3 linked regions of the Homo sapiens genome follow. The protein of the gene in region 3 purifies or fractionates together with the protein of the main gene of each other region. This does not show direct contact. Each region holds a gene or a part of one and is shown on either strand. Other genes may lie near its edges.

Region 1 (7,105 bases), on a different chromosome or scaffold from region 3:
CATGGGCCATGAATTAATTGTGATCTATTCATACAATGAAATGCTACTTATTAAACAATACTGTACACGCCTCAGATTTTTGGGTGTTCTTTTCCCCACAGCCAAGAAGCATTTATTGGCAGGCTGGCTCCAGAAACATAGTTGCAATATGCTAATACTATTCACAAAAAATTACCTTGATGAAGAGGGCCAAGCTACTTTCCTTAGTAACTAGAATACTTAGAAAAATAAGAATAACAAGAAAAATTATTATTACTTAGTAGTAATAATACTATCAATGAACAATGAATATTCGTATGATGTAATGACAATGTTCATTATTTAGTAGTAATGTTCTAATATTGTACAGTTGTAAGATATTATTGTAATAGAAATGAACAGTGAATATTCATCCAATATAATGACCATGTTCCTTACTAAGTAGAAATGTTCTAATATTGTACAAAATTGTAATATTATTGTAATAGAAATGAACAACAGATATTCATACAATGGACTACTACTCAGCAAAGAAAAGTGAATAAACTACTGATACAAGCAAAAACATGAATGAATCTCAAAAGCATTAGGTTGAGTAAAAGAAAGCAAACACAAAAGAACATATGCAGTGTGCATGGATTTATATGAAGCCCAAACACATGTACACCTAATCTGATGGCAATCAGAAAGTGGCTGTTTTTGGCATAGGGAGAATGGATCCATTGTGAAGAGTGAGGAAGAAGCTTCCAGGAGTGATTAAAATGCTTTAGACAGAAAAAAATCATTTGCTATTTAAAATTTCCATTACAGTGAAGAAATTAGCAGTCACAGATGTATGTTTATAAAATCAGGATTTTGAGCTAAAAAGAGGATGACCAAACACCTTAGTTTGCTTTACACAGTCATCCCAGCATAGACCTGACAGCACAGCATAATTGTTAACAGCACCTCCTTCACAGTCAAAGGTATCCTGATTTAAATGAAGGAAGACCTTTATGGTCACTTTAGTTAAAAGGAAACATATACTATTTAGTAAAATGAGCTCATTTACTTTTCTGTTCAATCCATATTTACTAAGCACCTACTATGTGGTTAAACATAGTCCCTTTATTGTTGCTACCACTTCAGATTTCCTCTTTGTTTCCACAATCAAAATATAAAATGGCTAGATGAATTTTTCCCAAACATAAAATTTACACCTGAGGACAAACTAAATACCAAAAAAATCAAGATTCTTTCTACAAGGAAAATATAAATCAACCATATAGAAAAAAAAGATATAACTTTTAGAGCTATAAAAAACAAAGTATATAAAGATATTCACAAATATAAAATAAAGAAAATCTTTACCTGCTGCCCTGTAAAGTATTTTAGGTTCAAAAAATATACAAGGATTTTTATCCTCTATGCATGACAAAAGAAGTCCTTTGGCCTGGAAAGGGCTTCTGGGTATAACCACCTGCAAAAACAGATTTTTTTAAGACAATTTTAGTAAAAATATATCCCAGTAAACTCGCTGCTAAGAAGGGCTGATATTTAAATAATCAATTGTTACTAATTAAAAATAGATATTGGCTATTTATTTTAAGCCTAATTATCACTTATTAAGTTTACATATTATATAAAAATAAAAATGCCTCTTATTCAACAGATATTTATCAGATGTCTACCATGTTCTGTTAACTAAGATACTACTCTTAAGAAGCTAAACTTGCCTATATAAAAAAAATAAAAAGAATATGCAAAGATCATTCATCAAAGCAAAAAACTGTAATATTGTTAATATCTACCTGTGTTTATCTATGAAGAAATCTCTTCTACTAATAATCTGTTTCTACTTTCAAAGTACATGCAACTCTCTTCTCCAGTTTTAACATGTCAAAATCTTCTTTTCCCATGAAAAAAAATATGGTCTTCATTTCATAAGTGAAAAATTAGTCCACTGAGTTTTACAGTCCAGGCACCATAGTGTCCAGTTATATAGCAAAGCAAAAACAAAAGTGTGGATAGTCCACACTTCCACTCACAGGAAAGGGCTCCAGGACCTTCTCGAGAATGAGGGTGATGACAAGGAAGATGATAATGACAGTAGGAAGTACACGTGTAAACTTGGCCAAGCACTCTGTGAATTAATTCATCTGTTCATAGCAACCCCACTAGGTAGCTATTATAATGTTCCTCATTTTAGAAATAGACACTGAGGTTTAGAGAGAACAAGTAGCTTGCCTAAGGTCACACGACTTGCTTGATCAAAGAGTCTCACCCAATTCCCACTGATACCAAAGCTCAAGCTCTTAACTTCTATCTAATGTTGACTTAAATCACAAACTTTGTCTAATTTTAAATGATTATAATTGTTTAAAGACAAATATTATATAGGAAGAGTTATTAAAATAAACCTGAACTTACCACAAAGACTTAAGATTCCCTGAGGCAAACTATATTTGGCTTTCAAAGCCATTTTTATGCCATTTTTATTGAAGGGTTTTATTTTAAAAATAAAAGAGCAGCAAAAATGTCACTATTTTCTGTATAAAAAATTTTATTTTCTGTTCTGGACCTCTGAACACATTAATAACCATATCACACAATGTCTTTATCTTATGTTCCTACTTTTTAAGTTCCCTTCATCTGCTTTCTTCATATTAGCCTTTTGTACTTTAAGTATATTTTCATTTCAGCTGAAAAAAAAAGGAAAAAGGAAGAGGAAGAAAGAAAATGAAGGAGGAAAAGAGAAGGCAGGGGACAGACAGAAAAGATCTGTTCTTAAAAACAATATAATGTTATAAATATTAAATGTGAATTAATGTTTAGCTCAAGCACAAAAATAACTTGCCTCGCACATGGCTTCTTTCCCAGTCTACAACTTCTAGCTCACATTCAAAAATCAGGCAACATCTACTCAACTAAGATAAGCTTATAACTTTGATCTGGTAGAAAAAACAAATAAGAAAAAAAGAATAAAACATAGACACATGCTCACAATCAATTCATGTGGTCAAAAAACAAATATACATCTCTGGATTCACACATCTATGGGTTTCTACAATGATCCCCTGAAAAGCTTATTCAGTAAACAGAAACAGAAAAGATAATACAAAAAATTAAGACATAAAAAACTCAAAATATTTTTACCATCAAAAGACCTAAGCTTTTGTGAAAGACAGGTTATAAAAAGGAGATGCTTCAAAATTAATTGGTTGAGCAAGTATTACCTAACTTTAAACAGAAAAAAAAAATCTAGGTAACAGTCTTCTCTTAGTCTTTTTAACAAGTAAGAAATACATTAAAAGCAAAAGTGTTATCCCTGTGACTTTGAGGTAAATACAGACTAAACAAAAGATTTATTAAAATCACCCCATCATCAGTTAAGTGAGAAAGACTTAAGTTAGAAAGAAATATAAAGCTTTGAAAGAGAGGGGAGGTAAACCAACTATGTTCTTGGTCTTATTCTTTGAAGTCTATAAAATTAATCAATGCCAGAGTTTATAAAACCAGTCCTCCTTCAAAAAGAACTTGCTGTAAAACTGGGCATTGGATAGCATACTTAAAAGAACTGCTAACCTCCCCTTCTTAAATACAGTTAAGTTCACATAAATTCCAAGAATCCTGTTTGTTTTCTTTCCTCTAGATAAGCATAGATATTAAATAGAATGAATCAAAATGGAAACATCAAATAGAAATCAAATAAAGTACATAAATGAACATACCTTGATTCCTGGGCAATGGGCAAAAAATGCTTCAGGACTCTGAGAATGATAGAGAGCCCCATGACCAACACAGCCCCAAGGGGACCGGATAGTGAGGCTTCCACAGTTAAAAAGATCCCCAGAGCGATAGCGATACTTGGCAGCTTCATTAACAATCTGAGGGTCAGAAAGAAAGACGGGGCATGGCACAATGAGTCCTTCCCTTCCAATCTCCTTCCGTTCTTCCTCCCTCCCTCCCTTCCTTCCTTCCCTTCCCAAGGCACAATGAGTCTTTCCCTCCCTCCCTGCCTCCCTCCCCCTCTTCCTTCCTTCCTTCCTGCCTGCCTGCCTTTCTTTCCCATAGCACAATAAGTCTTTCCCTCCCTTCCTTTCTTTCTTAAGACAGGGTCTCGTCCCTCCCTCCCTCCCTCCCTCCTTCCTTCCTTTCTTCCTTCCTTTCCCATGGCACAATGAGTCTTTCCCTTCCTTCCTTCCTCCCTCCCTCCCTTCCTTCCTTCCTTTCCCATAGCACAATGAGCTTTTCCCTCCCTCCTTTCCTTTCTTTCTTGAGACAGGATCCCATCACTCCCTCCCTCCCTCCCTCCCTCCCTCTCTTCCTTTTCTTCCTTCCCTCCCTCCCTCCCTTCCCTTCTTTCTTTTTGAGACAGGGTCTTGTCTTTCCCTTCCTCTCTCCTCTCCTCTCTCCCCTCTCCCTTCTTCCCTCTCCCCTCTCTCTCGCTCTTTCTTTCTTTCTCTCTTCTTTTCTTTTTGAGAAAGGGTCTCATTCTGTCACCCAGGGAGTGCAGTGCTGCGATCACAGTTCATTGTAGCCTTGGACTCCTGGTTTAAGTTATCCTCCTGCCTCAGCCACCAGAGTAACTGGGATGACAGGTATGTGCCACCACACTGGGCTAATTTTTGTAGTTTTTGTAGATATGGGTTCTCATTATCATTATGTTGCCCAGGATGGTGTTGAACTCTTGGCCTCAAGTGATCCTCCCACCCTGGCCTCCCAAAGTGCTGGGATTGCAGATGTGAGCCACTTCACCCAATCCCAATCTATCTGCTTAAACTATTCTATTAGATCTTTAAATATATGCTCATAACAAAATTATAATTGTAATACATTAGTAAAAGGATAATAAAATGTTTAGAATGCAGGTAAGGGTGGGTGGAAGGGTAGCGGCAATACTTGAATATTTCAATGAATGAACAACCTTAGAAATGTTCATTCACTTACCTGATCAAATGCAGGGAAAATATAATCTGCAAACTGAATTTCCGCAATGGCAGTAGCTCCAGTGACCGCAATTCCGATTCCAAATCCAACAATTCCTTGTTCACACAATGGGGTATTAAAAACTCTATCTTTTCCTTAAAATAGAAAAGAAAAAAAGGTTAATGTGGCAAATGAGAGTAATGTCATGCATAATACATTTAAAAATTCAGTAAACTAATAATGGGATGGAGAAGTATAGAACAGGTAGAGGAAACAGAAAATAAAGAGTATGGCTAGCCACGGTGGCTCACACCTGTAATCCTAGCAGTTTGGGAGGCCAAGGCAAGAGGATTACTTGAGACCAGGAGTTCAACACCAACCTGGCCAACATAGTGAAAACCTGTCTCTATTAAAAAAAAATAGTAAGGTGAATTATTTAAATCCAATTAATAATTGTATTAATTGTAAGTAATCTAATGTTTCAATGAAAATAAAAACTGTCACACTAATTTAAAAGAAAGGAAAACCCAACTATTTGAAAGGAAACACAAACTCTAAAGACAGAGAAAGGTTGTTAAAAAAAAGAAAAAAGAAGGAAAAAATAGACAATAAAAAACCTAACCAAAAGAAAGTTGATGTCACTATATTAATAGCAGGCAAAGTAGACTTTCAGGAAAAAAACATACCAGAGATAAAGAGGGAAAACGCATACTGTTAAAGGGTTCAATTCACAAGAAATAAATAATTCTAAATCTATACTTATCTAACAATGGGCTCCAAATAAATGGAAAAAAGCAACACAACTAAAAGGACAAATGGACAAAATCACCACATAGTGGGAGATGATTTTTTAATGTACTAGTCTTAATAACTGACAAAAAAGGCATACCAAAAAAAAGGAGGGAGTGTGAAAAATAGAGATGATTTAAACATGTTCAACAAACATGGCCTAACTGACATACAAAGGACACTGCACCCAGAAGCAAAGAATACAAATCCTTTTCAATTAAACAGAAAACACTGACATCAATTGACCATATACTGGACTACAAATCCAATCTCAACAAATTTTAAAAGATGAAAATTACATATATTCTCTGACCATAGTGTAATTAAGTTAGAAATCAATAAAAAGATCATTCAAAAAATTCTTATGTTAGAATTTTTTTTTTTTTTGAGATGGAGTTTTGCTCTTGTCACCCAGGCTAGAGTGCAATGGCGCAATCTCAGCTCACTGCAACCTCTGACTCCTGAGTTCAAGCCATTCTCCTGCCTCAGCCACCCGAGTAGCTGGGATTATAGGCGCCCACCACTACACCCAGCTAATTTTTGTATTTTTAGGAAAGACGGGGTTTCACCATGTTGGCCAGGCTGGTCTCGAACTCCTGACCTCAGGTGATCCACCCGCCTCGACCTCCCACGGTGCTGGGATTACAGGCATGAGCTACCGGGCCTGGCTAGAAATTTTTTTTAATAAATAGCTAAGTAACTCACAGCTCAAAGAAGAAACTATAATGAAAATTAGAAAGTGGTATTTTAAATTGAATAATAATGAAAAAACTATACAAAATATCTTATTGAGGTTCTGAACGTAATGTCAGAGTTGCGTTTTTCAGACTATCCTTTCCACATTTAATGATTATAAACTCTGGGCAAAATAAAACAAACAACTATTTAAAGGCATTGAAGGGCCAAAAGTAGGCATAAACTGGAGTCTTGACTCTTGAAAGAAATTAAGCCCAGTGGATGACCATGACGTTCATAAGCCTTGTCCTGCAAAAGGACTCCCCAGTCTATGAGTCAGGACAGCTAAAATTCAAACAAATAGACTCAGTCTGGTTGATCTGAGGTGTCAGAAAATAGTCTGTGGCTACCAGTGGTTGAAAATTGAGAGACTAAATCCCTAAAAGAAGGGCACAGCATGGAGGAGCCCCAAAATCTGTGCAAAAACTGATCAAATCCTTGCCAACACTTGTGCCCACAGGACACTCCAAAAGCCCAGCAGCAAATAATCTCTCCCAGTTAAAAGAGCTGTGCCCACCAACAAGGAGGCAGATTTTGGAGTTTGAGACCCTTCAAATTAGAGAAGTTTGATAAACCCTTTAGACGATCCATTCGAACCACTAGGTACAATTTTATTAGCGTATAATTCAATTCTCACTTGACGTTTCACCACCTCTCAGCTCATGCCAGAATTTCATTAGAAATTATAATTTCA
Region 2 (7,836 bases), on a different chromosome or scaffold from region 3:
TTTCTCATCTTACAAGGGGATGCTGGGCAGACTCCTCAGGTGATCTGTGCCTGGCAGAACCGGGTACAACAGGGTGGCTACCTCTTCTGCTTCCCCAGTGTTTCCCAGGACCCAAGACTCTCTCTGTGAGGTCCACAGGGCAGAGGCATAAGCCATTCTTCTTTTTTTTCTTTTAAAGTCAGGGTCTCAACTCTGTTGCCCAGGCCGGAGTGCAGTAGTGTGATCATAACTCACTGTAGCCTTGACTTCCTGGGCTCAGGCAATCTTCCTGCCTCAGCCTCCCAAGTAGCTAGGACTATAGGCACGAGCCACTGCATATGGCTAATTTTTAAAAATTATTTTTTAGTAGACATGGGGTTTCACTACGTTGCCCAGGTTGGTCTCAAACTCCTGGCCTCAAGAGATCTTCCTGCCTTGGCCTCCCAAAGCTCTGGAATTATAGGCGTGAGCCACTGCTCCAGCCTGAGCCAGTCTTTAAGATATTATCCCAGGTTGTTGGAGCTCTACCGTTTGACTTTGAGAATCAGCTGCATAGTCTGACCTTAAGAACCAGCTGTTCACTTTGGTACAGAAAGGTACAGAGATACCAGGGCAGAAGGCCAATTATATGTGGAACTATCTGGCTCTTTGCAGAACACCTGGATCCCAGACCTGGGTCTGCTCCACCACCCCAGTGGCCACATGGCCAAGAGGCAGACAGAGACATGTGGTCTGAATGATTCTAAACCCTTGGCAACAAACAGATCAGATTACTCCTTCCTCTAGCCACCATTTCCCTCTTTACAAAGTTGACGTGTCATTTCTAAACTTACCACATTTCTCTACGAGCTTCAGGGGAAAAAGGATAAAAATAGTCAGCCAATTCCTTATCATGTTTCTCGATTTCTCAGAACTAGGAAGAAAAACAGCAAGAGAGAAGTTCAGGGGAATGTTGAATCAGCTCAGCTCCCTGTAGACAATCTGCCCTCTGGAGCATGGATGGCTCATAAAGGACTGCCACCTGACAGCTGTGACCTCAGGGCTTTGCATCACGGCCTCAGAGGGACACCCTAGAGAGGACTTATCTTTCTTTGATATACAGGGGAAACGGGCTCCGAGCAGATAAATGGGTTGTGTAAAGTGCCCCCCTGAGGAAGTGAACAAAGACCAGAATTTTTCCCTCTTCAATTGCTTTTTGTAAAAACTTAGTTAGCAGAAAGAAAGAATGCAATTTTACTGGCTTGAGATTCTTTTTCTCCAAAAGTTGTTAAAACTGTGGTCAGATATTTGACATTGTGAACCTATAAACCTCAAGGAAATTAATTTCCTTTCCTGTCCTGGGATAAGAGTCTAAGGGCTGATGACACCAACTGACCCTTAAGACTTAAAAAAACATTTTTTTTTAATATACATATTTAAATTTTTTTTTTTTTGAGACAGAGTCTTGCTCTGTTGCCCAGGCTGGAGTGCAGTGGTGCGAACTCTGTTCACTGAAACCTCCACCCCCTGGGTTCAAGCAATTCTTGTGCCTCAGCCTCCTGAGTAGCTGGGATTACAGGTGCCCCCCACCATGCCCGGCTAACTTTTGTATTTTTAGTAGAGATGGGGTTTCACCATGTTGGCCAGCCTGGTCTCAAACTCCTGACCTCGAGTGATCCGCCCGCCTCAGCCTCCCAAAGTGCTGGGGTTACAGGTAGGAGCCACCGCGCCTGTCAAGACTTTATTTGACAAGTGTCACCATTCCAGGACTGGCTGGGGTCATTCACAAGGAGGACTCGGGGAGGGATGAGCCCCAGAGCAAGTCCTTGGTTTAGTGTGGAAGATGGGGAGCTGCATTCCTGTAAACCCAAGACACAGCAGGTGAACAGTGGGTCAAGAGCAGCCAGGCCGGCATGGATTTCTGTAGCTTGGTCTCCGTGCTGCCTCAGTACACAGTCTCACGGGCCTCCTGCAGACTGTGGGGAGCTCTGGGTAAGGTCTGTGTGGAGACATCCCTGTTCCCACTCTGATTTCAGTTTCCCCAAGGCCTCCAGCATCTCCGGACATCTCCCTTACACACTCCTCAAGAAGTCTCCCTGGCTGCTCCAGCTGTCTGACCTCTGTTGGCCCGTCTCCTCCAGGGTTCTCTCTTTGCCTGCTGCAGGTCTGCCTCATCTGAGACCCTTCTCACCGGCCGGGAATGACCCCGTACCTACTCTCTGGCCTCCTCTGGGGGCCTTGCTCTTGGCGCTGGATCCCTGTGCTCTGTCCCCTGACCTTGGAGGAATTGCCCTCCTGCGTGTATGGAATGACCACAGGCCTCCCTCTCACTCTTGCTGCCCTCCGCTCCTCACACCTGCCCTGTGGCCTCAAGTTCAGGATTCAGTTTGTTGCCCAGGACAGAGTCTGGTTTTTCTCCAGAAATTAGATGCAGAATCAGGCCTAACCAGCTTCTCAAACTCACAGACTTGGTCAGCAAACATTCCCAAGCCTCAAAGGCTGAGACCCCTGGAGGAACGATGCCAGCAGAGACAAAACGACATTGAGAGGTAAGTCAATTAAAATGTTAAAAAACATCAGATTAGGCTGAGCGCAGTGGCTCGTGTGTGTAATTCCAGCACTTTGGGAGGCCGAGGCAGTTGGATCACTTGAAGTCAGGAGTTCGAGACCAGCCTGGCCAACATGGTGAATCCCCGTCTCTACTAAAAATACAAAAATTAGCCAGGCGTGGTGGCATGTGCCTGTAGTCCCAGCTACTCAGGAGGCTGAGGCAGGAGAATCGCTTGAACCCGGGAGGTGGAGGTTGCAGTGAGCCGAGATTGCACCATTGCACTCCAGCCTGAGTGATAAGAGTGAAACTCCGTCTCAAATTAAAAAAAAAAAACAAAAAAAAAACCAGATTGATAATTACATACAACTAGTGGCTTGTGAAAGCTACAAGATAGAAATGAAGTATCTCCTGACAATGGGCTCTGTCTGGCGTGCCCTTCCTATGTAAGTTCTAACTATTGTCCAGGCCTCATTCAGATGTCACATGTTTCAAGAAGGCTCCTCACCCATTCAGTCCCTTCCCAGGAGCAACCTGGGGCTAGGGGTCTAGTGTGGCAGCTCCTGTCTGCCAGGTATGAGTTGGTCCTGTCCTCTGTTCTACGACCTGGAACTCCCTGGGTCTCCTGCTTTTGGAGAGGGTACACAAATAGTGGCAAGGGCTGTGTGCACTGGAGACAGGCTTGACCTATTTATTACTTATGCGACCTTGTGGTGCCAAACAAGGAGGTGGTAACTACCTCACAGGACTTAAATGAGGAGATGTAAAGCACGCATTGTCAAGTGGGACTAAAATTGGCTGGGGGTAGGCTGGGCGCGGTGGCTCACGCCTGTCATCCCAGCACTTTGGGAGGCCGAGGTGAGCGCATCACCTGAGGTCAGGAGTTCGAGACCAGCCTGGCCAACATGGTGAATCCCCATCTCTACTAAAAATACAAAAATTAGCTGGGCATGGTGGCTCAGGCCTGTAGTCCCAGCTACTCGGAAGGCTGAGGTAGGAGAATCGCTTGAACCCCGGAGGCGGAGGTTGCAGTGAGCCGAGATCGCGCCACTGCACTCCAGCCTGGGTGACAGAGGCTGCAGACTCCATCTCAAAAAAAAAAAAAAAATTGGCTTGGGGTGGTAGTGAAGAAATCTAGCTATTACAATGGTTTGTGGCCACAGAAACAAATACACAGCGTACTAGTGGTATTAAATTTTATGGGAAGGGGGTAGGTAGGAATAACGAGGTTGAGAAACAAGGATATAAAGTGGTTACCTCTGTTGCTTAGGGCGCCTAGCGAGCTCTCACAAAACACAGTAATCCTCAATGTTACTGGAAGAGGCAGAGCTCAGGAGTCCTCCCTTCGCCCAGTGTGAAAACCCGGAGGGGAGGATGGGGTCTCGTGCTGCTCAGTCCCCCGGAGCCCCGCACTCCGCACGTCAACCGGCGCTCTCGCAAAGGTTCTCTCAGCGTCTCCAAAGCAATCTGCAAATTCCCCAACCGAGACCCAGGCGGCAACTGAGCAGAAGGTAAGGGGCTGGGAACGGCACCCACCCCGGCAGCCCGCTGCCCCTGCCTCGGCTGACCACCGCTCGGGCCCTTCCACCCGGGGGTTGTCCCGTGTCGCGAGGCCAGCACTGGTGGCGGGGAAAGGAGCCCGCCGCGGCTGAGGGCGCTGGACCCCCGGCAGGCTGCCCCGCTGACCTGCTGTGCCTCAAGGGGTCCGCCTGGGAAACAGGGGAGGCCGCGTCCGCTCTCACCTGAGCGCCCCCAGGCTCGAGGAACCGCCCTCACGGGACGCATGAGCCTCGCCAGGTGCCGGTCAGGAATGCACCGCGTTCCCCTGCCCGGCTAGACTTTGGGAGAGGCGGGTCCGCTGTCACCTGACCTCCGCCACCTGACTCGTGGGGCCGGATCTCGGCGAGATGAGCTCTGGGAGTTGTAGTTTCCGCGCGTCTTAGACGGACAGAGCGCAGCTGGGTCGGGCCGGGGCGCAGAGATCGGGGCTCCGGCGTGAGGGAAGATGAGGTCCGCTGCCAGGGACACAGAGACTCTTGGAGCCGCCAGCGCCTCCCGGCTCCTTTCGTGAGCGAAGCTCAGACCGCCCTCCATTGGGCGGAAATCAGAGCCCGTGGGGCGGGGCCCCCTTTAGGTCCCGCCTTCCGCCGCCTCTCCGCCTATAGCCGGGGCCCGCCGAGAGGTTGCGTGGAAGCTCGCCTTCCCCGGCCAGTGGGAAGACGAGAAGCCTCCATGTTGGGTGTGGCTGAAAGATTGGCAGGCGACTCCCCGCCCCTGCCCCGCCCCCCTGGGCGAAGAGCGCGGACTTGTGGGGCCGCTGGCTGCAGACTGGAGCTGCGCGGGTCAGGGAGATAATGGCTGCGCGGCCGATCACCCTCGGCATTGACCTGGGCACCACATCTGTGAAGGCAGCTCTGCTGAGGGCCGCGCCCGACGACCCATCCGGGTTCGCAGTGCTGGCGAGCTGTGCCCGTGCTGCGCGGGCAGAGGCGGCGGTCGAGAGCGCGGTGGCCGGGCCCCAGGTGAGTTGGACCCCCGGGGCCGCGCCGCCTCCAGGAGCCTCCTGACCACCCTTTTCCACCCCAGGAGGCCTCCCTGACAGCCCTTCCCGCAATGAAGTCTCTATTCCAGCTTGTCCCCAGCTTCTCCAGGGGCCCGTCTGCCTGCAGCAGCTGTGCTCATGATCCCTTAGGTCTGGTCCCAGAATCCTTCCCACCTGCTGGGACCGATTCCCCCCCGCCCCCTCCCCGACTCTCTGGCTTCTTCTGGGGGCCTTGCGCTTGGCGCTGGATCCCTGTGCTCTCTGTCCCCTGACCTTGGAGGAACTGATCTCTTGTGTGTATGGAATGACCACAGGCCTCCCTTTCACTCTTGCTGCTCTCCGCTCCTCACACCTGCCCTGTGACCTCAAGTTCAGGATTCAGTTTGTTGCCCAGGGCAGAGTCTGGGTTTTCCTCCGGAAATCAGATGTCAAATCAGGCCTAACTGGCTCCTGGCTCATTCCACAGAAGCAGAATGCGGACCAAGAAACCTTTGGTCAGCCGGGCGCGGTGGCTCACGCCTGTAATCCCAGCGCTTTGGGAGGCCGAGGCGGGCGGATCACGAGGTCAGGAGATCGAGACCATCCTGGCTAACACGGTGAAACCCCGTCTGTACTAAAAATACAAAAAATTAGCGGGGCGTGGTGGCGGGCGCCTGTAGTCCCAGCTACTCGGGAGGCTGAGGCAGGAGAATGGCGCGAACCCGGGAGGCGGAGCTTGCAGTGAGTCGAGATCGCTCCGTTGCACTCCAGCCTGGGTGACAGAGCGAGACTCCTTCCCTTCCTTCCCTTCCTTCCTTCCTTCCTTCCTTCCTTCCTTCCTTCCTTCCTTCCTTCCTTCATTCTTTCCTTTCTTTCTCTTTCTTACCAAGTCTCGCTCTGTTGCCCAGGCTGGAGTACAGTGGCGTGATCTGGGCTCACTGCAACCTCCGCCAACTGGATTCAAGTGATTCTCCTGCTTCAGCCTCCCGAGTAGCTGGGACTACAGGTGTGAGCCACCGCGCCCGGCTACTTTTTGTATTTTTAGTAGAGACAGGGTTTCGCCATGTTCGCCAGACTGGTCTTGAACTCCTGACCTCAAGTGATCTGCCCACTTCAGCCTCCCAAAGTGCTAGGATTACAGTTGTGAGTCACTGCGCCTGGCCCAGCTTTGTTTTTCACAAGCTCTTGCCACATACATGGACACGGTTGTTTAGGGTTCAGAGCCCATTTGGCTCAGAAGCATTTCTGAGGATAGGGATTTCAGGAGCACTTTGTATCTACATAGAAGCTTTCAAGATTAGTTTGGTTGGGACATTAGGGCATATTAAAAGGATTCTTACTTAAAGGACTATGAATTGGAGGCAAAGTTGGCTCTGACCCTGGTGGGGTGAGCAGGAGAGCTGGCATTAGGGGAGAGTAGGCTCAGAAAGTGCCAGTTTCTCCTGAAATAGAGCACTTCTTTTTTTTTTTTTTTTTTTTTTGAGACAGGGTCTCGCTCTGTCACCCAGGCTGGAGTGCAGTGGTGCAATCTCTGCTCACTGAAACCTCTGCCTCCCGGGTTCAAGTGATTTTCGTGCCTCAGTTTCCCGAGTAGCTGGGATTACAGGTGTGCGCCACCATGCTTGGAGAATTTTTTTGTATTTTTGGTAGAGATGGGGTTTCACCATGTTGGCAAGGCTGGTCTCAAACTCCTGACCTCAACTGATCTGCCTGCCTCGGTTTCCCAAAGTGCTGGGATTACAGGTGTGAGCCACCGCACCCAGCATGGCCACTTTTTTTTTTTTTTTAATTGATCACTCTTGGGTGTTTCTCGCAGAGGGGGATTTGGCAGGGTCATAGGACAATAGTGGAGGGAAGGACAGCAGATAAACAAGTGAACAAAGGTCTCTGGTTTTCCTAGGCAGAGGACCCTGCGGCCTTCCGCAGTGTTTGTGTCCCTGGGTACTTGAGATTAGGGAGTGGTGATGACTCTTAACGGGCATGCTGCCTTCAAGCATCTGTTTAACAAAGCACATCTTGCACCGCCCTTAATCCATTTAACCCTGAGTGGACACAGCACATGTTTGAGAGAGCACAGGGTTGGGGGTAAGGTCACAGATCAACAGGATCCCAAGGCAGAAGAATTTTTCTTAGTACGGAACAAAATGAAAAGTCTCCCATGTCTACTTCTTTCTACACAGACACAGCAACCATCCGATTTCTCAATCTTTTCCCCACCTTTCCCCCTTTTCTATTCCACAAAACCGCCATTGTCATCATGGCCCATTCTCAATGAGCTGTTGGGTACACTACCCAGACGGGGTGGTGGCCGGGCAGAGGGGCTCCTCACTTCCCAGTAGGGGCGGCAGCACGGCCACTTCTTGAAAACTTTTCTGCCCTCCCTCCCCAGCTTTCAGCAGGCTGTTCTGTGCTTACAGGCTCACCCAGTGTGTCACACCTATTTAATGAAGTGCTTAGCGGAGGCCAGTCATTAACCCCCCCACACCACATATGAATCGTGCTCTGGGACAAACAGCACTGCTGTGAGTTAGTCTATATAGCAGGGTTTCTCAACCTTGGTGCTGCTGACATTTTGGGCTGCATAGTTTTTGTTGTGTGAGGGGTGTCCTGCATGTTGTAGAATGTTTAGCAACATCTCTGGCCCACTAGATGCCAGCCACGCTTGCCCCTCTTCCCCAGATGTGACAACCAAAAATGTCTCCATGTTGCCAAATGTTCCCTAGGTGACAAGACCACCCCGAGTAGGAACCAGTGATCTATAGTCATATCTGTGGCCGGGCGCGGTGGCTCTTGCCTGTAATCCCAGCAC
Region 3 (7,105 bases):
TCACCTGAGGTCAGGAGTTCGAGAGCAGCCTGGCCAACATGGTGAAACCCCATCTCTACTAAGAATACAAAAATTGGGCCAGGCGTGGTGGCACATGCCTGTATTCCCAGCACTTTGGGAGGCCGACGTGGGCGGATCATGAGGTCAGGAGATCCAGACCATCCTGGCTAACACGGTGAAACCCCGCCTCTACTAAAGAAGTACAAAAAAATTAGCCGGGTGTGGCGGCGGGAGCCTATAGTCCCAGCTACTCAGGAGGCTGAGGCAGGAGAATGGCGTGAACCCAGGAGGCGGAGCTTGCAGTGAGCTGAGATCGTGCCACTGCACTCCAGCCTGGGCAACAGAGCGAGACTCCATCTAAAAAAAAAAAAAAAAAAAAAAAAATTGGCCAGGCATGGTGGTGGGTGCCTGTAATCCCAGCTACTTGGGAGGCTGAGGCAGGAGAATTGCTTGAACCCAGGAGGTGGAGGTTGCAATGAACTGAGATTGTGCCACCAGGCTCCAGCCCGGGCAATACAGCGAGACTCTGTCTCAAAAAAATAAATAAATAAATAAATAAATAAATCGTAATAATAATTATGGATTTGTCTATTTCTACTTTCAACCCTGTCAGTTTTTGCTGTGTGTGGGTGTGTGTGTGTTTTGGTTTTTTGGAGACAGAGTCTCGCTCTATTGCCCAGGCTGGAGTTCAATGTCACAATTATAACTCACTGTAATCTTGAACTCCTGGGCTCAAACCATCCTCCCACCTCAGCCTCCCAAGTAGGTGGAACTATAAGTGGGTGTCACCACACCTGGCTAATTTTTTCAATTTTTTTTGAAAGCCAGTGTGCTGGGATTATAGATGTGAGCTACCATGCCTGGCCTAGAATCTTTTCTGAACTGATTGGTAATGAAAATAGCAACCTATCAAAATTTGTGGGATGCAACTGAAACGATGATTAGAACTTTATCATCGTAAATTTTAAATTAGAAAAGTGTTTAAAAATCTAGAAATTTACCTGAAACTTCTACCTTAAACTAGAAAAAGAGCAAATTAAACTCAAAATGTGTCGAAGGAAGAAACTAATCAAAGAGGGGAATGCACAGAATAGAGTATGGACACGATGGAGAGAATCGGTGAGACCGAAACTTGGTTCTCTCAAAAGACGAGTTGGCAAAAACTCTAGATTGACTGATGGAGGGAAAAAGGGAAGGTCCAGGTACGTTACCATTTTCAGGGATGGGAGAGGAGTGTTCACAGGTACAGATGGTGCAGATAGTAACGGGCGATAAGGAACTTCTTGCTAATAAATTTTCCAGATTAGACAAATGGGCAAGTTCCTTTAAAGATAAAACTTATCTAAATTGACATGTGAAGAAATAAAAAAATCTGAGCCCTTTTATCTATTAAAGATACTGAATTTTTTAAAGTATAAAACATTCCAGGCTAGGGTTGGTGGCTGACACCTGTAATCCCATCACTTTGGGAGGTCAAGGCAGATCCATCACTTGAGCTCAGGTGTGTGAGACCAGCCTGGGCAATGTGGCAAAACCCCATCTCTACAAACAATACAAAAAAACTGTCCAAGTATAGTGGCACTCACCTGTGGTCACAGCTACTCGGGAGGCTGAGACGGGAGGATGGCTTGAACCCAGGAGGTCGAGGCTGCAGTGAGGTGAGATGACGCCACCGTACTCCAGCCTGGGTGACAAAGTGAGACCCTGTCTCAAAAAAAAAAAAAAGACAACCTCAGGCTGGGTGCGGTGGCTCATGCCGGTAATCCCAGCACTGTGGGAGGCCAAGGCGGGTGGACCACCTGAGGTCAGGAGTTCGAGACCAGCCTGGCCGACATGGTGAAACTCCGTCTCTATTAAAAATCACCATTTTTTTTTTTTTTTTTTTTTTTTAGGAAAAATGGACATTTTCCTCTCCCCCTAAAAAAAGATAAAACTCCTTCCTGGTTATTAACTGAAATGCTGATCGAGCTTTATCCTAAAGAAGATCAGTCGTGGACAAGAACCTTGTGAAATGTTCCCCATTTGAGACCCTAAAACTAATGAAAATCACAGCTTTTGGGTAGGTAATAAGGTGTTTTGTTTTGTTTTTTGAGACGGAGTCTTGCGCTGTCGCCCAGGCTGGAGTGCAGTGGCACCATCTCAGCTCACTGCAAGCTCTGCCTCCTGGATTCACTCCATTGTCCAGCCTCAGCCTCCTGAGTAGCTGGGACTACAGGCGCCCACCACCACGCCCGGCAAGTTTTTTTGTATTTTTAGTAGAGACGGGGTTTCACCGTGTTAGCGAGGATGGTCTTGATCTCCTGACCTCGCCATCTGCCCACCTCTGCCTCCCAAAGTGCTGGGATTACAGGCGTGAGCCACCGCGCCCAGCCAGTAATAAGGTTTGTCTGACGGTGATTGACAGCATTTTAGAGCTGATGCATGGCAGTAGAGATTGCAGCAAATCATGTGTCATCACCAAAACTTCACTGAAGAAGCAAAACTAGGCCTGTCACCCGTGCTGTCTGTGTACACAGATGGGCTTCAGAGCCTGTCACACGTGTTGTCCGTGTACACAGATGGGCTTCGGGGCCTGTCATACGTGCTGTTCGTGTACACAGACGGGCTCCTGGGCCTATCACCCGTGCTGTCCGTGTACACAGATGGGCTTCGGGGCCTGTCACACGTGTTGTCCGTGTGCACAGATGGGCTTCGGGGCCTGTCACACGTGTTGTCCGTGTACACAGACGGGCTTCAGAGCCTGTCACACGTGCTGTTCGTGTACACAGACGGGCTCCTGGGCCTGTCACACGTGCTGTCCGTGTACACAGATGGGCTTCGGAGCCTGTCACACGTGTTGTCCGTGTACACAGATGGGCTTCGGGGCCTGTCACACGTGTTGTCCGTGTACACAGATGGGCTTCGGGGCCTGTCACACGTGTTGTCCGTGTGCACAGATGGGCTTCGGGGCCTGTCACACGTGTTGTCCGTGTGCACAGATGGGCTTCGGGGCCTGTCACACGTGTTGTCCGTGTGCACAGATGGGCTTCGGGGCCTGTCACACGTGTTGTCCGTGTGCACAGATGGGCTTCGGGGCCTGTCACACGTGTTGTCCGTGTGCACAGATGGGCTTCGGGGCCTGTCACACGTGTTGTCCGTGTGCACAGATGGGCTTCGGGGCCTGTCACACGTGTTGTCCGTGTGCACAGATGGGCTTCGGGGCCTGTCACACGTGTTGTCCGTGTGCACAGATGGGCTTCGGGGCCTGTCACACGTGTTGTCCGTGTGCACAGATGGGCTTCGGGGCCTGTCACACGTGTTGTCCGTGTGCACAGATGGGCTTCGGAGCCTGTCACACGTGTTGTCCGTGTACACAGACAGGCTCCTGGGCCTATCATGTGTGCTGTCTTTGTAAACAGTCAGGATCCCAGGACTATCACGCGTGCTGTCCATGTACACAGGCAGGCTCCTGAGCCCATCACACGTGCTGTCCGTGTACACAGATGGGCTTCAGAGCCTGTCACACGTGTTGTCCATGTACACAGACAGGCTCCCGGGCCTATCATGTGTGCTGTCTGTGTACACAGGCAGGCTCCTGAGCCCATCACGCGTGCTGTCCGTGTACACAGGCTCCTTTCCATTGAAGTTCAGCTTGGCATAGAGCTTTTTATGAATTCGATTTGTCAAACACCTCAAAATAAGAATTTTTTTTCTTAGGAAGTCAGCATGAGTTAATAAAAGTAAATTGGGTGTTGGCCGGGCGCGGTGGCTCACGCCTGTAATCCCAGCACTTTGGGAGTCTGAGGCGGGCAGATCACCTGAGGTCAGGAGTTCGAGACCAGCCTGGCCAACATGATGAAACCCCATCTGTACTAAAAATACAAAAATTAGCCTGGCATGGCGGCACATGCCTGTAGTCCCAGTTACTCGGGAGGCTGAGGCAGGAGAATCACTTGAATCCGGGAGGCGGAGGTTGCAGTGAGCCAAGATCATGCGATTGCTCTCCAGCCTGGGCAACAGAGCAAGACTCCATCTCAAAAAAAGAAAAAAAAAAAAGTAAATTGGGTGTTGTGGCGTGTGCCTGTAGTCCCAGCTCCTGGGGAGGCTGAGGCAGGAGGATCCCTTGACCACAGGAATTTGAGGCCAGCCTGGGCAACACAGTGAGACCCTATCTCTAAAAACAGACAAGTAAACCAGCACCCAGCTTCACTAAGAGACATCATCATTAGTTGAATGTTGGAGATGGTGTAGATCCAATTTACCAGTGACCACCCACAGGTTAGAAACATTTCAACAATAGGCTTTGTTTCAGCTTTCTTCCTTTACTGCAGGGTGCAAGGCAGCCGGCCCATGCCTAGGCCCCAGCTTCGCCAGCAAAGGCCAGGCAGAAGGAGGCATCACCATGAGAATCACCATCATGGTGCTGCTGGGATGGGACAAACCTCGTTTTGGTGGAGTGTCAGTGTTTTCAAGTTAGGGGCTCTGTTTACATAACACGTCTATACTGCCATGGATTTTCTCAACGGGCGTAAGTTGCTCCTGACTTGTCTCAGCGGGCGTTTAAGATGCTCCTGAATCGTATCCTTGTCATGTGGGAGCCTCCATTGGAGAGAAAGCCGACTGACCGGCAAGCACAGACCTGCCCTGTGCTTTCTTCTCTTCAGCAACCGCAGCCGGGGTGTCTGTCTTCCCAGGTGCAGCCGAGTCTCAATTCTGTTTCAGAAACTATCTCAGGGCTATGGGGCTTGGAGCTGATTGTGTTTTCTGAGGTTTGTGGTTTTCAAGATGTTTTAAATTAAACAGGCAGTTTTATTTATTTTTGAACCTTAGTGCATCCGATTGGATCCATCAGAATCTCCTAGTTCATAAAGAATTGTTGATGCTGGTCTCTGTTAGCTTTTTTTTTAAAAAATTTAGAGCTAGAGTCTTGCTCTGTTGCCCACGCTGGAGTGCCGTTGTGTGATCATGGCTCACTCCAGGTTCCAGATTCCAGGACTGCTGGGCTCACGCAGTCCTCCTCAGCCGCCTGAGTAGCTGGGACTCAAGAGGTGTGTGCCACCACACCCTGCTAATTTTTTGTAGAGATGGGGTCTCACTGTATTGCCTAGGCTGGTTTCAAGCTCCTGGGCTCAGATGATCCTCCTGCCTCAGCCTCCCAAAGCGCTGGGATTATAGGCATGAGCCACCACACCCAATCTGTTAGCCTCTTTTTTTTTTGTTTTCTTGAAATGGAATCTCGCCTTATCACCCAGGCTGGAGTGCAGTGGCATAATCTTGGCTCGCTGCAACCTCTGCCTCCCGGATTCAAGCAATTCTCCTGCCTCGGCCTCCCGAGTAGCTGGGATTACAGGCACGCGCCACTGCACCTGGCCGATTTTTTTATTTTCAGTAGAGACGGGATTTCACCATGTTGGTCAGGCTGGTCTTGAATTGCTGACCTCGTGATCCACCCACCTCGGCCTCCCAAAGTGCTGGGATTACAGGGGTGCACCGCCACCGTGCCCGGTCAGCCTCTCACTAGCTGAGGAGCCAGAACTTTTCCTGTTCTTACCCTTCTCCCACTGCCTGTCTCCCCTCCAATCTGTATGTGAATGTATGTTGTGAGGTTTTATCCATTTAATATTATACTCCTAAGATTCATCCATATTGTGTGTTCAGTGGTGGTTCATTCATTCATTCATTCTCACTGCTATAAAAAGGTTCCAGACTTGGCGTGGTGGCTCACGCCTGTAACTCCAGCTCTTTGGGAGGCTGAGGCAGGAGGATCGCTTGAGGTCAGGAGCTCAAGACCAGCCTGGGCAATGTGTTGAGACCCCCATCTCTACAAAAAAATTTAAAAAATTAGCCAGGCATGGTAGCTCACGCCTGTAGTTCCAGCTACTTGGGAGGCTGAGGCAGGAGGATGCTTGAACCCAGGAGGCCAAGGCTGCAGTGAGCCAAGATCACACTGCTGCACTGCAGCCTGGATGACAGAGCGAGACTCTGTCTCAAAAAGAGAGAGAGAAGGTTTCATCGTATGAATTATTTTTATCGTATGTCATTTTGTTTTTCTATTTTGAGATGGAGTCTTGCTCTGTTGCCCAGGCTGGAGGGTAGTGGTGCGATCTTGACTCACAGCAACCTCTGCCTCCCGGGTTCAAACGATTATACCACTTCAGCCTCCCAAGTAGCTGGGATTACAGGCTCCTGCCACTGTGCCTGGCTAATTTTTGTGTTTTTAGTAGAGACAGGGTTTCGCCATGTTGGCCAGGCTGGTCTTGAACTCCTGACCTCAAGTGATCCGCCTGCATCAACCTCCCAAAGTGCTGGGATCACAGGCGCGAGCACCTCGCCTGGCCTATCATTTTCATTAGGAAAAGTTTGTAGGTTGATGGGTCCTTGGTGCCTTTTTTTCCTGCCTGCTGCTGGAGAGGAGCTGAGGCTTGAGGAGAAAGGAGGAAGAAGGAACTTTAATGCATTGGCTGAATATATATATTTAACGTTTTGTCCTGCAGATGGTCCTCTGTAAATGGAGTAAATTACAATATTTGAGGAGTCTTCCTTACCTCATCTCTGAAGGCAGAGATACCCCATAGCCTCGGGGCCCCGGCTTTCTGTAGAGCTGCTGACAAAGTCCCCCTGAGCCAGAGCTGAGTCACTGCTGTGTCCAACAGTCTCGGGTTCTTGCATCTTTCCCGTCCAGCGTCTCGCACTGACCCTGGGGGTCCCCAACGCAAGCCCGTTCACATCTCACTATTCATATCTCAGCATGAGCGTTCACACTGTAAGTAACGCCCTGGCTCTTCTCCAACCTGTTTTTCCAGATAAACATTGACGATCTTGAGGATGACCCTGTGGTGAACGGGGAGAGGTCTGGCTGTGCGCTCACAGACGCTGTGGCACCAGGGAACAAAGGAAGGGGTCAGCGTGGAAACACAGAGAGCAAGACGGATGGAGATGACACCGAGACAGTGCCCTCAGAGCAGGTGGGGGGCTGAGTGGTGAGGAGGTGGCATCAGACGGGAGAGTTCCAAGGCACCCAGCCACGTGTATCCTGTGCTGTGATTTTCCTTGGAGGTGTAATTTTCCGAGTTCCATTTTGGTTACCTGCTAGTTGCCCCCAAATTTACTTGGGAACCTTGATGAG

The links.
Region 1: the proteins of TCF25 (region 3) and BCKDHB purify together in Homo sapiens (affinity purification with mass spectrometry; 2 studies listed by BioGRID and IntAct, with this or other methods). This does not show direct contact.
Region 2: the proteins of TCF25 (region 3) and SHPK purify together in Homo sapiens (affinity purification with mass spectrometry; 2 studies listed by BioGRID and IntAct, with this or other methods). This does not show direct contact.

Annotation. Positions count from the first base shown.
Region 1 is NC_000006.12:80,165,615-80,172,719, reverse strand, and holds part of BCKDHB (2-oxoisovalerate dehydrogenase subunit beta, mitochondrial isoform 1 precursor), read right to left. Parts: intron 5,043-7,105; coding exon 4,909-5,042; intron 3,846-4,908; coding exon 3,690-3,845; coding exon of another isoform or gene 3,663-3,689; exon of another isoform or gene 2,504-3,662; intron 1,439-2,503; coding exon 1,330-1,438; intron 1-1,329. UniProt on the Homo sapiens protein: Together with BCKDHA forms the heterotetrameric E1 subunit of the mitochondrial branched-chain alpha-ketoacid dehydrogenase (BCKD) complex.
Region 2 is NC_000017.11:3,633,244-3,641,079, reverse strand, and holds the start of SHPK (sedoheptulokinase), read left to right. Parts: upstream 1-4,829; 5' UTR 4,830-4,860; coding exon 4,861-5,028; intron 5,029-7,836. Other genes in the region: CTNS (cystinosin isoform 1 precursor), read right to left, coding at 813-873. UniProt on the Homo sapiens protein: Acts as a modulator of macrophage activation through control of glucose metabolism.
Region 3 is NC_000016.10:89,876,569-89,883,673, forward strand, and holds part of TCF25 (ribosome quality control complex subunit TCF25), read left to right. Parts: intron 1-6,782; coding exon 6,783-6,944; intron 6,945-7,105. UniProt on the Homo sapiens protein: Component of the ribosome quality control complex (RQC), a ribosome-associated complex that mediates ubiquitination and extraction of incompletely synthesized nascent chains for proteasomal degradation.